2 separate regions of the Homo sapiens genome follow, and region 2 is linked to region 1. Evidence: fine-mapped expression QTL. Tissue or cell type: whole blood. Region 1 holds a variant in brackets; the other region holds the start of a gene. All regions are shown on one strand. Distances are between the middles of the regions.

The links. PIP is the estimated chance that this variant, and not a neighbour inherited with it, causes the effect.
Region 2: it holds the start of ARHGAP22, and the variant in region 1 is fine-mapped to the expression of ARHGAP22 in whole blood (TOPMed, PIP above 0.99). The same link has a PIP of 0.9 or more in blood mononuclear cells and monocytes.

What each region holds. Positions count from the first base shown.
Region 1 is chr10:48,649,153-48,657,333 of GRCh38, reverse strand. It overlaps a transcript of ARHGAP22 not described here. Among named protein-coding and RNA genes, the nearest start is that of WDFY4, 32 kb to the left of the region's middle. RefSeq lists an enhancer at 459-528 and a silencer at 779-1,368. The variant T/G (reference allele first, on the strand shown) is at 3,802.
Region 2 is chr10:48,600,864-48,609,044 of GRCh38, reverse strand. It overlaps ARHGAP22 (Rho GTPase activating protein 22), which reads left to right and starts at 3,972. Exons shown (of 10, transcript NM_021226.4): 1 at 3,972-4,282. The coding sequence starts at 4,249. RefSeq lists enhancers at 795-854, 3,821-4,551 and a silencer at 3,805-3,964.

The DNA of each region.
Region 1 (8,181 bases):
CACCAGGGCACAGACAGAGAAGGTCTGGCACACTCTTTTCAATGGAGCCCCCTATAGCTGTGGAGACTGACGGGGTCCAAGAACAGGACGCTATGACCTTGCTTCTCAGGCGCCCTGAGCTCTGGTGCTGTGGCAGACGTGTGCCTCCTTACCTCTGCCAGCTCCCACTCTCCACCACGGTCACCCTGCCCCACACCCGGGGTCTCCAGGGGCAGGCAGGTTACCACAATGCTTCGGGTGAGTGATGGCCCTGAGGCTGGACTGACCCAGCTCTACCCAAAGGCTGAATCAGGCTCTCCAAGGCTATCAGCCCATGGCTAACCACCCTGCCTTGGTCAAGGACAAGAGTGCAGGTGATTCCAGGTGAACCTTGACGCTGAACCCAGGTGAGCACGAGGCCACTCCACTCTCGGGGAAGGATCTCTCTGCCCAACACAGACTCTGGAAGCCAGTTCAACAAGAGCCACCTGCCTGCTTCCTCTGCTTTGACTTTCAAATGCCAGCCATGCTGCGTGTGGCTCTGGGACCTTGGGGAATGCGCTGACCCTTTGTGACCGTAGTTTCCCAGTCTACGGGCGGTGTAGGCGCCTTGGGAAGTAGCTCCGATCCCCCTCGGCAACCTCAGGGCTCCTCCCCTGCTAGTGATTTCTCCAGCCCCCACTCTCTCCCCATACTTAAGACACAGAACTGGGCCAGCTATGCAGAATTCACCTGCTCCGAGGAAGACTCAGTATAGAAAACCCTCTAAATCCCACACGCCCTGCCAACAGCACAGGGCGCACAGGACGGTGAGCTACAGATGAGGCTCGGGCGAGATGAGGTTGGGTAACCGGAAGCCAGGCGGGAAGGCGCAGCGAGCGGTCCGGGCACGCAGGAGGCCGCCTCCCCGAGGCCCGCCAGGGGGCGCCGTGCACCAGGGCCCAGGAAGTCGCCTCCGCCCGTGGCGCCACCCGCGCTGCCCGGCAGGGGTCAGCCTCGCCCGGCCATCCCCGACCCGGCTGCTGCACCCTTCTGACTCGCTGGGACCGCCCGCTGCGCCGCATCCCCCCCCCCCGCCCCCCCCCCCCCAGAGGCGCCGAGCAGCCGGGAGCTCCGTCCTGCCTGAGGATGCGGGGCCCAGGCTGCATCCCCCCGGCCCTGCTCGCCTGCTCATCACACGGAGGCCGGGGACAGGGTCACGGCCAGGGAGCCTGCGGGGCTAAAGGAGCGGGCCGGGAGCTCAAGAGCTGCCGCCGGGCGGCGAGGAAGGAGCCCCAGGCAGGCCCCGGGCGGCCGAGGCAGGGGAGGAGACGGCTGGCCCTGGTTCCAGGTGAGCAGCCCCGCCCGCTCTGCTGGAGGCCCCGCTTACCACCGGCGGGAGATGCGGGTGCAAGCCCTGGGGCGCACGTGGCCAGGCCACTGCCACGCCCGAGGGACGGGTTTTCGTCGCCACCTCGGCCCTGGTGAACCCTGTGACTGGAGTGCCTCCCAATCCCACCGTGATGCCCACCTCGGGGCGCTGCCAGGTGCCAGGCTAATGCGTGTGATCCACAGTGTGCTGAGAAGTGCTGACTGTCATTGTGAATGTCCGTGGTGGGGTGACGCCCGGGCAGGGTGCACTGGCCTGGTTCCAGAAGACCTGGCCTCTCCAGCTCCCACGGCGCGCCCGTTTGCTGCGTGGCCCATGCTGCTGGCGGCTGCTCCTGGCTGAGTCATTCCAAGACGAGCGTCCAGTCCGCGCTCTCTGCCGCCCTTCCCAGCGCTGCCCGGCAGGCCCCGGGAACTGTGCCCAGCTGTGCCCGCTTAGCTGGTGTATGACCTGCCTTTGAACTTGCTGCAAAGAAAGGTGGGTGAGGGAAAGGCGAGGGCTGGGGTGAGGGACTGGAGAGCAGTCTCCTGTCCCTTCTCCCCCTGAGGTCACTGTCCTCCAGCTGGTGGGCAGAACTCTGTCCCAAAGCCTTCCAAAGGAGAGGCCCACGCTGTAGGACCTTGTCCCCACTATAGGCTGAGGTTGGTAAAGGTCACAGAGGTGGTTCCTGATAAAAATTCCCTAACCAGAGGTCTCCTGATGCAGCGTCCCCCGCCCCCCCCCCCCCCCACACACACACACACATCCACTCTCCATGGTGTGGGTGGAGGTCAGTGAGGAGAAGGGACCTTCCCCGGGCACACACGGGCCAGTTCGTGGGAGGGGCCTGAGACAGGAAGGAGATTGAGTCACCGAGCTGGCCAAGAGGAAAGAGAAGAGAAGAGAAGAGAAGAGAAGAGAAGAGAAGAGAAGAGAAGGAGGGAAGGAAGGAGAAAGAAAGAAAGAAAGAAAGAATGAAAGAAAGAAAGAAAGAAAGAGAAAGAAAGAGAGAGAGGAAGGGAGGAAGGATGGAAGGAAGGAAGGAAGGAGAAAGAGAGAAAGAAAGAGAGAGAGAAACAGAGAGAAAGGGAGAAAGGGAGGAAGGGAGGAGAGAAAAGAAAGAGAAAGAAAGAAAGAAGGAAAGAAAGAGAAAGAAAAGAGAGAGGAAGGAAGGAAGGAAGAAAGAAAGAAAGAAAGAAAGAAAGAAAGAAAGAAAGAAAGAAAGAAAGAAAGTAATCAGCATGTCCAAGGAGAGGAACTAACATTCCCCCTCTCCCTCTGTCTCTCTCTCCCTCTCTCTCCTCTCATACAGCACACACTTAAACACACACACCACACCAGCGGGGCAGTCTCATGTATCTTATCCTTAGGGCAACCTCACTGTGGGCACTGTATTTTGAACCCCTTCTCCCCAACCTTGGTTGCAGTGCCTGGCATCCACTCTAGCAACCACCTCTTTTCCATACCAGCTGAGGTGGCTTTTACGAAGCCAAGCCACCCTATTCCTGGGATGAGACCAGGTTGGCTTTAGCCAATCAGCACATTGCATTGGTTTGGGTGGTTCAGGGATGGGTGAGTGGACCAACCAAGGCCATGAGGCAAGAAGAGATGTTTGGGAGAGTAGGGAGGGGCAGCTTCCCAGCACTTCTGAGAGAGACACTGGAAGATAGGCTCTTTCTTTGTGTTGGTCATGAAAGAAAGAGTATTAGTTCCTGAAGCGAGCTGGTGTCCAGCATTTTTTAATAATGAGGGGACTTTGTTGAGAATGAAGCAGGCATTCCAGAAGCAAACAGGAGAACTGGAAAAAAAAACCCAGACTTGGTTAACATTGTCAAGCTGCTGGATCCAGCCATGCCTGAAGTCCATATTATGAGGGCTTTCCTGCTCAAGGAGCCAATAAATCCCCTCTTTTTAACTGACTTTCTTATTGTCTGCAATTGAAAGTTTCTTACCTGGTGGTATTTTCTTTTTTGATCAAAGAGAAAATGGATATTCAGAAGGTATACGTTTGCCAGATAAAATACAGGATACCCAGTTAAATCTGAATAGTGTTTCAGGTCAACTATACATACCTTTTTAGCAGGTATTATGTCCCACGCAATATTTAGAACACAGTTACACTGCAAAACTAACTGGGCATCCTACACCTTTATTTGCCAAATCTAGCCCATGTCTAAATTCCAAGCACTCGAAAATGGAAAACCTGGACTTTGTCCTAGAGTTTTAGTTCCAAAGCCCCCTGTACACCAGGTCGTGGGATGGGCTGCTTCCTCTCACTCCTCTCTGCCTCTGTACCTGTGGGCTCTTATCAGCCTTGCACTCTGGCCTTTGCAACCCAAATTACTGCTTGCTTTGTTGCAAGGACATGCTGGCACCTTGGGTTTTGGCCCTTGCTGCTCTCTTCAAGCAGTTGAGTGCTCGCCTGCTGCCTCCTTCTGCTTCCAGCTATCCCTGGTCACTCCCCAGAGGCTCAG[T/G]TTGGCCCCGTTCTCTGTGCTGTTCCAGCGCTCCCTTCTGAGAACATTAGCAGCAGGAACTGTCCACAGATCCCCAAGGCATGGGCCAAGATGACATTCCCCCAACACACCCCACTAAGCGCTGTCCCGCAGCCCAGGGTGCACCTTCCTGCAGTGGTGACAGCCCCAATTCCTGCACCCACAAGCCCAGGTGTAGGAAGGATCTAGCCTGCACTGAGCCACTGAGCACTGGCTATGCTTGTTTTATCTTTATAGCAGTGATTGGTTTTTAACTGCTTTTATGCTCTCTGCAATTGAAAGGTGTTTCAGGTCACTATCAATAAATGTGATGCAAGCTCAATAGAACAGAGGAGACAAGGAGGGTGCTAGGAAGAAAATCCTGATGCATGCCCTCCCAGGAGTCACTGCTCCATCTGAATCAATGCTGCCCTCATTTAGATAACATTGTATCCACCGCCTTGGAGCCTGCCTTTGCCTTGGACTGCCAGGACCACTATGTCAATGATGCTGATGGCTGCATAAATATCGCTTGGCTGTTTCATAATTGGGATTTTTCTTTTTGATTCTCCACAACTGTAAATTATGCTGTAATGATGCTAAATTTCCAGAAATGGAATGGAGAAGCCATGCCATGAGCAGCCTGTGTGCCTGGTGAGGGTCTCACATGGGGTGCTCCTGGGCCTTGACTGTCCCTCTGTGGGACTTGCTCTCCCCACTAACAGGACTGCTGTGCCCACCAGACAAAGGCCATAAATGCATCCTGGAAGTCACTGCAAATTTGCAGTGTTGTTTGTACTTATTTCTAAGGCTTTCTGGAAACCCAGCTCCCCTTGAATCCAGGTCAGCTCATGGAAAAAAAATCAAATATAGCATCCGATGTGTGCTGAGGGCTTTGCTCACAAAGCCCCTTCTTTCCACTTCTCAATTCTTTGTTCTGTGAAGTGGTTGTCACTATTGTTCCCATTTTACAGATTTGAGGAACTGATACCCCAAGACCCCGTGACTTTCTCAAGGCCATTCCAAGATCCCTAGATGCACTTACGCTTAATGAACTAATTCTTCACAGCGAGGCTTCTTGCTTAAAATCCAAGAAAATACCAGATAAAGGGCATTCTAAATATATTTCTTTTCTATAGATGTGGATCTCCTGTTACTGGAAAACAGGAATTAGCTTGTCTGCTTGAGGATGTGGTTGGTTCTTTATAAAAAGGATACAGAAGAAATTTGCACAGACTGCCAGCTTCATTATGCTGCCGACAGCTTCCAGCAAAAGGAGGACGTTTGCAGCCAGATATTTCAGTAAGAATTTTTTTATGTTCTATGTGGGAAATGATTACCTTTGCATTTGACTTCTTGCTTGAGGGATGGGGTCCCCGGAGGCTGTCTTGGTCTTGTGGCTGAGAGCACCAGGCGGCATCTGTGGTCAGGGTTCTGACCTCCTTCAGCTCCTGGAAATGGCTGATGGCACAAACCCCACCCCTGAACTATGGCAGCTGCTCTGTGTCTGCCTGAAAAACAGAGACTTCAGGGTCCTGGGCTCTAATGACTCAGGGCTCTGATTGCATTCAGAGTCTGTAAGGACTCCTATGTCCAAGGACCGCTGGGGCAGTAGGCAAGTCCTTCACAGGGGAACGCTGTGTGCAGCTGAAGGCTACTCTGCATCTCTGCTTGGAAAGGATCCAGCCAAGGGGCTAGTAGAGAAATAGTGAGGACATCTCAGTAACCCTCACTAAAGTGTCTGGGAGGTAACTATTAGACCAAATGGGATGGCTGTGACTGTCTGTTTGGGTCCCTCAGTAAAGTGCCTGGGAGATAATTGTTAGACCAAGTGGGATGACTGTTTGTTTGGGTCACAGGCAGGTGCTCGCTGGGTGGGCTGTGCAGGTGAGGATTGGGTGGATTGTGCAGGTGATGGTTGGGTGGGCTGTGTAAGTGATGATTTGGATGGGTTGTACAGGTGCTGATTGGGTGGGTTGTGCAGGTGCTGGCTGGGTAGACTATGCAGGTGATGATTGGGTGGATTGTGCAGGTGCTGACTGGGTGAGCTGTGCAGGTGAGGATTCGGCTTGTTGTGCAGGTGCTGACTGGGTGGATTGTGCAGGTGCTGGCTGGGTGGACTATGCAGGTGATGATTGGATGGGTTGTGCAGGTGCTGGGCTGCATGGGCTGTGTAGGTGATGGTTGGCAGTTGCTAGTCAGGTCATATGCATGACCTGATGGGCTCAGTTATGAGATGATGTTGCCTGAGCCCCTCCAGGACTGGTAAAGATTGGAAATTCTAGAAGCTAGTGGGTGAAATGCAGTCATGGACCTCAACCTCCACATTAAAATCACCCAAGGTGCTTTTAAAAATTCCCAGGCTCCCCCTCCAGAGATGCAGGTTTAATTGGTCTTGGATGAATCCAAGATATCAGCATATTTTTAAAGTCCCAGGTGATGTGATGTAATGTAATATGCTACCAGGTTCAGGATATAGTGGACCAAGCCCAGGGTGGGCTCAGACTCCACAGAGCCCCTTTTCTGTGGTCTGAGTAGATATTCATGGGGTGAGGAGTAAAGCTCTGTGTTCATGAAGAACGGAGTGGGCTAGAAGCCAGGACCCCTGGGCCGGCCTCGTGCTGCAGACACTTCTCACACTGTCAACTTCCCTGGATCTCACTTTCCACAGGAGAAAATAGGGGGTGGGGGAGCAGCTGAGATTAACCTTTAACTGTTCAAGCCTAATACCTAATATCTCCAGGTATTATTTTCCCTGTGCTAGGTTTATTGCATTATCTGGCTTGGAAGGAACAGTCACTTGCTTTTGTAGGAGGTTCCAGCCACCAGATTTCTATGATGAAATAAATTCTTCCCCAGATTCATAGCATAGGTGCAAATCCTTTGAGAAAGGGACAGAGGACATACTGCATGACATACCTGAACTTAATGAATTTGATTGAATTAATGTCTTTATCAAGATGAAATGTATATAACATGAATTTAACCATTTTGAAGTGTAAAAGTCAGTGGCAATTCATACATTCATGATGTTGTGCAACCACCAGCTCCATTTAATTCCAAAATTTTTCCATCACCTTGTACCTATTAAGAGGTTGCTCCCTCTTCTCCACCCCATGCAAACATCAATCTGTGTTCTGCCTCCATGGATTTTCCAACTCTGGATTTGTCATGTAAATGGACTCATGCAATATGTATCCTTTTATGAAGCCTCGTGTCTGGCTTCTTTCACTTAGCATAATTTTTCCAAGTTTCATCCACATTCATTCCTTTTGAGACTGGATTAATTTGTAAATGATTACCTAATCTCAAACACTTTGACAACTCTAAAAATGGACTGGCAATGCCATTTCGTGAAAGGCTGCAGAAAAAAAAAAAAAAAAAAAAAAGAGTCTCCAGCACAGGGGGAGGGGGCTTCCCCTCCCCATCCTTGGTCTCTCGGTTAGCACCTCTGTGTGTTTATCTTTCTTCTCTCCACCTGCCACCTCCTGGTCTCTCTCTCTCTCTCCCTCTCTCTCTCTCTTTCTCTCTCTCTCCCTCCCTCCCTCCCTCCGTCTTTCTCAGCTAATGGAGATTATTGAGAAACTTAAGTTTGCTTTTAACTGTCATTTTCAAGGATTGAGGGCAAATGAAAGGTCCTTATGCGTTCAATTGTACTGCTATGCTTCATTTCTTCACTTTGTCCACAATCTTGCCACATCGAGAACCTACCAGCACTTTCCCTCCAGCAGGAGCTGGTGGTGAGCCTCTTGGCCTCTCACTTGGTGAGTTCTGTGCTAAAAGTCTCACCCAGCAGTGGGCAGCACCCTCAGCTCCATCACTGTGGGCCTCAGCTCCTCCTAGGGAACTCTCCTGCCAGCAGGACTAGCTGCAGCCTCTTTTCTCACCAGCTCCCAAACTTCAGACCACTGGTCTGCCTGGTTGTCTCCCAAGACTGCTGGCTTCTCCCTGTCTGACCCTCCTGGCACTCCCCATGCCAAGAAGCCACTGTGCCTCGGGATCACAGTGGAGAGAAAGACGGTGGCCTCTGCCCATACCCAGCCAGAGTGTCCAAAGAGAAGGAGAAGGCATCTCTGAATCCAACCACTCCTTCAAGTCCCCAAATCCCTGACCTGCACGCTGGGACCAAGGCTGGGAGCAGCCTGGGGTAGGGAGGCTCCTTCGAAACCCTCTCCCACGCCTCCCTGACTCTGTGGTTGTCCTCACCTTGGCCTTTCCCAGAGCAGACTCTCTCCCCCACTGCTGGCAGAGATGTAAGGGGATTGTGAGAACCCAGGTAGGGGGGCATGACTGTGTCCTGAGAGAATAGGGGACTTAGAGAGAGGGGCGCTGAAGCAGTTGGAATGGGGTAATAAGGGAGGAATGGTAGGTGGATGCCATATT
Region 2 (8,181 bases), 48 kb after region 1:
CACAACATTCAATTTCAAACTACCAGCATGATGTCATTGAACATTAGAGTTGAGAAGAGATGCATGGCAGCAACCCAGTATATATTATCCACCATGTAGAAACAATAGATGTCAATTACCTGAAGAATAATAAAATGTAGTAAAATGATTTGGAAATTATGAGTTTTTAGTGCTTGTTACCTTTGTCTTAAATAGTTTATTTAATTATAAGTTTATATACATTAATTTCTAATGATGTTCTTGCTAAACAACTGGCTTACAAAACTCCTGAAAATTTAACAATCAGTTATGTCATTGGTACTCTCCAGCTGGTCCGGCCCACTACTGGGATAGACAGAAGGAGAAACCAAAGTATGAGGGTGGGAGCTGCCCATGAAGACCTTGAGTGACATGCAAGGGAGCTGCGGCATCGACCTCCTGGCAGCAGGAACAGAGAGTGCACTAAGCAGGCAGGCTGGGGACCCAGGTGCTGGTGACCCCTGGGCAGGCATCACAAAGCCAGAGTAGCATTGTTTCTCTCCTCTGCCTCCAGAAGGGCTTACTCTGGTCCTCCATGCAGCTTCTGGAACAGGGGAAGCAGGGCTTTGCTATCTATATGTCGCCTTTGTGCAAATTAGAGGAAAGCTCCCTCCTCTAGCTGCACACCTCCCCACCTCCCTGTGCTGGAACACAGGGCTTTGCCAATGGAGCCCAAATTCAGCCTCCTTACCTCCCTCTACTGGACACCTTTGAGCAGTGCACAGACCATCCAACAGCACCTGTGGCTCTGGGTGGAGTTGTCTCAAGTTGGGGCTTGGGACAGATGCCCTTTCCACTTTCTGACCAGGAGATTTATTCGCAGATGTGCCTCTCCCTGAGAAGAATCTCCCTTAGGATGGCAGCCAGCAAACACCCCATGTGCAGTTGTCTTCTAAAGCTGTGGTTCTCAACCCTGGCTGAATCCCTAGAGGAGCTTTTACAACTCCCAATGACAATAAACACTGCAGACTAGTTAAATCAGAGCCACTGGGGGTGGGACACAGGAATTCACTGTCAGAGCTCCCTAATGTGCAGCCAAGGTTAGGAACTACTGTTTTGAAGGTATCCTGGCTCTGGGCCAGTTGATGCTGATTGGCAGCCATCCCACCAACAGGTGTGCATTTCAATAGATGCCTTCTGCCTTCCGGAGACTTCTGTCCATTCAGTGCTCAGCTTCTGTCCCTGAACAGCCCTTAGAAAATACTGAATGATTCAAGGCAGGAAGCCAGGTGAAGGCAGACCTAGGACCACTGCTGGAAAGGGGCAGCACCGTGCAGGCAGGCACAGGGCAGTGGAGAAGGAGGCATCTGTCTCCGCTGCTAAGCTAGACCTGTATCTCCCACTCCTTGGTCTGGGTGTCCCACTTATAAGTGAGAAGAGTAGGGCTGGTTCTTCAAATAAAAGCTTATAGGAGGTCACATGTTCAACAGATCCCCTTGCCCTGCCCTTGTCCCCACTCCATCCTCCCACAGGCCACCCCAGAGGAAGTGGGAGGCTCCCAGGGCCCTGCAGATCAGGGCTGGTAAACTTCAGGATGAAGGGGCTCCAATTCCTGCCTCTGTGGACCCTTCATCTCAGGAAGTACTGAGAGCACAGTCTGAGGTTGGAGAGGAGAAAAGAGCTACTTTGCCCACCTGCCCCATTCCCCCAGCCTTCTCAGACGCAGAACGTAGATCAACTCCTGCCCTTTTCCCAGCCTGACTTCTGGGGTGTGAGCCCAGCTCTGATCCCCAGAAAAGCAGGCGAGTGAACACAGTGACTTAATATCATCAGGGAAAACAGCTGCACAGGAAAAGCGCCTGGGGGTGGTTTCTTAACCAAAACAAGCGTGAGTGGACCCAGACTAAGTCTCAGGGCATTTCCTTGCCTCTGACTTGGATGAAGTGGTCCAGGCTGCATTACTCACAAATGGCTTCCTGATTGCTCAAGACATTGTCACAAGCCACAGGACTTGCCCTGTGACCCTGGTGTCGACATGAGATTTTCTAGCTTGATATTCTCCCCACTCCTCATGGGTGGCCCCTGTCCCAACCAGGGCTTGTACCTGGCCTTAAAGGAAAAGGAGGTCAGTTCTGTCATTCAGTGGTGTTTCTTGGATCTGCCCATGAAGCCAGAGTTTCCTGTGAGGCTTCTGGCCTGAGTCAGCCTGGGGCTCAGGGAGGGCGTACAAGAGGGGCAGTACAGGGACATAGATAAGGGCCCAGGGGAAGTGCTTAGTGGCTCATTCTGCTGGTGGAATCAGGAGAATTTCATTGGGGAATTGCCCAAAGAGGACAAGGCAATGTGAGGAAGGGCATTCCAGAGAGAGGGAACTGCACGTGCAAAGACACAGCTACATGTGCAAAAACACAGAGGCACAGGAGAGCAGGGGCTGCACATGCAAGAACAGGAACACACAGGAGCAAGGCATGTGCAAAGTCACTGGGGCACACAGGAGCAGGCGCTGTATGTGCATATGGTTGTATAGAGCATCGGCAAGAGATAGGTCAGAGAGGAGTCCATGGATGCTACCATGAAAGAACCTGGAATGTTATGCCAAGGTACTCATTCATCCCTCTGAGGAGTAGCTGAAGACCAGAACAAGTGACTTGATGCTGAGTAAGACAGCTTTGTGTCCATGGACTCTACCTTCTCCCACCAGCTTGGCCATGTGGCTCACCACATCCTGGTGAGTCTTTCTTCTTACTCTGCAGTCCTCCCCTCTCCATAGGGCACACTGTTCCCTAGGGAGGACTGCCACAGTGATCTCCTGGTGGGCTCTCTCCCTCTACAGCTGCTAAAGTTGATTACATACCAATAGGACACTTGGGGATCTGTGGACATGGGGCACTCGAGGGAGTGTGGAGGGTCAGATGGAGGCTATGGCCATCTGAGCAGGGGAGGGCATTGTTCAAATCCCTCTTTACCAGCTACTGAAAGGGTCACACAGTTCTCAGGCCCAAATAGCCAGACCCAAGCTCAGATGCCTAAGAGGATACACGGAGTGATTATCAGGGGCACAGAGGCAGGTCACCGTTCAGCAAGTTCATCGGGGGCTCAAGCCAGGAGCTGTTACCATGCAGTGATGGGAATAGGGTGGAGAGGCTGGCATCACAGAGCAGCAGGAGCTGTAGACACAGCCCTGGGTTCTGGTGCCCGCCCTGCTGCTCGGTACTGTATGACTTTGGGCAGGTGATTCAACCTTGCTGTGCCTTATTTTCCAGATTTGAAACGCTATATATATAGCACCTGCTTCAGGAGTTTGAGAGTTAAATGAGATATTGAATGTAAAGCACCAGCCTCAGTGCCTGACACATAGTAGGTGCCTAATAAATGATAGCTATTGTTATGATTGCATTCCTTGGGTAATTTTTAGCATCTTGAGGCTGGATTCCGCTCCTCACAAAGCCCCAGTATACACCCTTTAAAATTATGCCAGCATCAAACAGAAACATGGCAATTAGCAGAGATTCACTATTCAATTCAGATCTTCCTATGAAGAGCCCTGAGTTAAGTGCTTCCTGCCCTCTTATTCCTGTCACCTTACTAAAGAGGCATAAATAGTATCCCTAACAGGCATCTTCCTGTTGGGAGTCTCCTGAGGAGTTTACATTGCCGGGCTGCTTGCTCCTTCCCAGACACACCTGACTTTCAACACGTAAAACAGTGAGCTCATAAGCGGGTCCCCGTGGATTGGGCTCTGGGGTGGGGGGGGGGTCTCGGCTACCTTCTCACCAAAGCGCTATCCCACCCGGGCTTGGCAGGGAGTGCGGCTCCCAGGCGGCGGCTGAAAGGCGCATTTCTTCCAGCCTCAGCAAAGGATGGCCGGAACCCCAGTACCCTCTCCCGGGCCAGGACCGCGCCCCGCGTCTCTGGCTGGCCCCGCCCCTCTCGGCCCCGCCCCGCCCCCGCGCTCAGCTTGGACAGCCACGCGTGCGCCCAGGCCAGGCGGAGGGACTGCCCCGCCCTGGTCCAGTGATTGATCAGCAGTGATTACTGAGGCTTTAATGGTCCGCTTGGATGGGAATTAATTCTGGGATGGATAAATAATGCATCGAGGTTTATGTAGTCCAAGGCGAGCCGTCCGTCCGGAGCCAGGAGAGGTAGCCGAGGGAGCCTGACGGGTGACGCCAGCGGCCACGGGGCCCCGAACGAGCAGGACATGAGGGGCGACTAGGCGCGAGGACGAGCAAAAGCAAGTGGATGACAGCATGAACGGCCCTGCGGGGCTGGCCGGACGGCTGCAAGAACATGCTGAGCCCAAAGATCAGGCAGGCCAGGAGGGGTAAGTCCAACTTTCTGGGGTTTCTCTGGGCACCGCATGTGCCTCTTGGCAAACGTGCGCGGACACTTGGCCAGCCGTCACGCCATGTGTCACATGGGGCGGGCGTTCTGGGACCATTGCCGCTGAATAGTGAGCATCCTCCTGAGGAAGTGCCCTTCCTCGTGAAACTCCTGGGCTGGGTGGGGACACGACCTGAAGTTGCAAAAGGGCGGTGGCCGGCTTAGTGCCCCAGTGGGTGTGCACACTTCGCCCCACATTCCACATTTTACAGAGGCCCTCGGTCGCTCCAGGTGACCTGGTGGCAACTTTAAGGAAACTTTGCTTCTTTACTAAAAAGGAAATGCCCAAGATTTGCCCTGTGGCCAACACAGAAGCACCCCTTACCAGGGAAGGCCATGCCCTGGCTTCTAGAGACAGCTGGGTGCAAGCGAGGGTCTTCGTTCCCGCTGCTTTGCAGACAGTATTTCCTCAAGCAGGCCAGGGGCAGGCAGGCTTTCCTGCCAGAACACTCAGAAAGCTGCAGGGTCTGGGGGCAGGACGGGTGGATGCGGGAGCAGACTCAGACCAGCAAGAGATGGGGGTCAGGAGAGTCCAGGACTGGGCTAGCCAGCCTGTGTCCAGCCAGCGACCCAGCACAGTGACCTGAAGACTTGGCCACTGTATGGGGCTAGAGACAGCATCTCCATGGACAACAACTTCTTAGCCACGGAAAGTGTCATTTTGAATGAGAACATCTGTCTTTTACAAAAATAGAATGTGTCTTTTCAGGTGGCCAGTATCTGGGAGGGCTGAGCTCCTTTTGTAAACAATGAAGTGGAGGATGGGTCTTTGGAGGTGGATGGAGCATTTGCCTGGGAGCTTGGAAACAGTTTGTGTCTCACCAGGTGTTTGCAGCGGGGGGCCTCCAGCCTCCTGTGGATTCACAGGGAACACACCCATCTTATTAGCACACTGCAAGCACTTGGATGATTTTCCTGGATGGGACCAGCCTTCCAGTGTGTTCCACAGACGTCAGGACCCCTCTGTGGGGTGCTTTCGCATGGGCTGAACCCTGTGTACCCCAATGGGCAAAGGAGGAACTTGCATGGCTCTGCTGAGGAGGGGGCAAGTCTAGTGATGACCCAAGGGATAGGACAAGCCAGATACCTCTGCGAGAGCTTAGTTCCACCCTCCCACTCCTGTGTAATGAGCTGGCCACTGGCCACATGTGGCTACTAAGCACTTGGCATGTCACTAGTCCAAATTGAGAAAAAGACACACCAAATTTTGATGATTTAGTACAAAAAAAGAATGTACAATATCTCATTAATAATTATTTTACTGAAATGACAGTATTTTGGATATATTGGGTTAAATAAAATCTATTATTAAAACTAATTTTACCTGTTTTACATTCTTTTACTATAGCTACTAGAACATTTACAAGTACATATGTGACTCATATTATATTTTTTATATTTCTATTGGACAGTGCTAGTAAGAGACCAGTGCTTCAGCAAAGGGGCTTACAGGCAGCCTGTCTTTGAAATCCAGGATTTCTCATAAATGTTTGTTTTAAGTCAATGGTTCTCAACCAGGAGCAATTTGCCCCACTAGAGAACATTTGGCATTGTTTGGAGTATTTTTGGTTATTCCAACTGAGGGGTGCTACTGGCATCTAGTGCGTATAGGCCAGCCATACAGCCCTCTTCCAGTCCTCAGTGTTCCATGAGGCTTCCACCATAGGGCTTTTGCACATCGTTCTTTCCCCTGAAATGCCTCCCACATTCACATGTGCGCACATGCATGCCTGTATGTGTGTGCACATGCGTTCATGCATACAAACATACACACACACCTTAATTCCTATTCACCCTCCAGTTATAGTATAGTTCAAGTGTTGCCAGCCAGGGAAGTCTTCCCACACACCCCAGTCCAGGCTGGATCCTCTGCTCCATCTCTCCTTTTCTTTATGGTATTTACCATAGGTTGCAGTTGTATACTCCTGAGTGTGACTGATTGGTGAATATCTGTCACTTGCATTGCTCCATGAGCTTCGTGAAAGCAGGAACCATTTCTGTTCGGGGACATCATTATACCCCCAATGCCAGGTACCTGGTGGACACTCAACCTGTGTTTTTTGAGTGAGTGGATGAATAGCTGGATAGAGGAGAAAGCATTTGCCTGGGTGGCTGGAGCACTGTCTCTACCCAAGCTGGCCCGGTACTTAGGAAATTTGGCCTCATCTTTCACTGACTCATATGTTGCAAATATTTTCCCAATTTGTTGCTTGCCCTTTATTTTTATATTAGAGTGGGTTTTTTTTCTAGATGTACCTGTTTTTAACTCGTATATATTTTCCTTTTAGAATTTCTGTCTTTGTTTGCAATATTTCAAAATAAAATTGTTGATGCTATTAAGGAGGCTCCTTCTTTTAAAGGAAATCATCAGACTGATGGGCCAAGTTATAGGAGCTTTAACCATCTCCTGTAGCAGGAGTGTCAATGTCTCAGGAGCCTTGATGAATGTTCAGAGCCTGGTCAATACTTTGGGGGTGGGGAGAGAAAGCTCTATTAATATGATGAAGTACCTTCAATGGCCTTATTCTTGTGATTGTCCCACAAGAAAGTAAACCAACATTTATTGTGCACCCATGCTCCAGGCACTTTTGTTGTACCTCATTTAATTCTCATGACTACACTATAATGTGATATCATTGTTACCATTTTGACAGATGTAGAAGAATCATGGTCGCCCAGCCAATAAATGTGGGATCTAAATTTGTCTGTCCAATGCTAAGGCCTCTGCCTTCTCTCTAACCCAACACTATCTGAAGACCTCTGCACCTGGCCCTGTACATCTCCATGAGAGCTGTAGATTATTTCAGTGATAAAATGCAATGATATTTTTAAGAAGGTGCATCTAAACACATGGAGATTAGATCTAGACAACTCATAGAATGTTTGAGGTTGGATTATTGATACCTAGCAGAAAACTAAGCAAATAAAAAACAAGGCAATTATGAACTCCACAGAAAACAAAAGTGATTCATGAAAGAAAAATTATTATCATATATAACATACCTCAAGTGGGACTAGCAATTAAACGGTGCTAATAATGGAAATTCTGTTGTTAATCTAACCAAAATTTTAATATAACTAATTGGGAGGGTGGAGTGGGTGCTTATGGATGGTGGGGGGAAAGGGTGTAAAAGAAACAAAATCTTCATCTTCTATAGTAAGAAGTTAATAAATAACACTTAAAAGGAAAAAATCAAGAAGTGGTAATAAATAAATACTATCTGGAAACATAGAAGTAATACCAAAAGAACCAATGACAAATGTTGAAAGTGGCTGCCTCTGTGGGGTGGGGAATGGAAGTAAAGGGATAGGACACTCCTGGGTTTTGCCCCAAGGCTGCAGGACTACTTGAAAAGTGGTTAGGGAATCACAGCCCAGAGGTCAACTGACCTCATACCTGCTCAGACTGGGGGATCCTTCAGAGCCCTGGAAGATTCTGCCCTTCAGGGACACTCATAGGGTTAGCAGGCCTCCTGGGATTGCTTAGTTATGAATGTTGTGGCTCCCAGGATGTGCCCTTGGCGATGCTGTGATGCCCCTGCCCAGGTTTGTCAGGTACCATGATGGCTCCCTATGACTCTCACCACCTTCATGGCTCTGAGAGTGAAGCAGCTAAGGAACAGTCACCTAATTAGGTGACACAGCATCTGGCTTTGCCTGATTCAGAGAGAGGACAGAGGTCTAGCAGAATGGTCAGTAAGATATGCTGAAGAAGGGGCGTATTAGAACTGCTCATGGAAGGGTGCATCCAGGCTGTGGGCTGGAGCTTAGCCAGGGACTAGAGGCCTCAGAAGAGCCTGCTCTGGAGAAGGAGGACCAAAGGGAATCACCCAGCAGTCT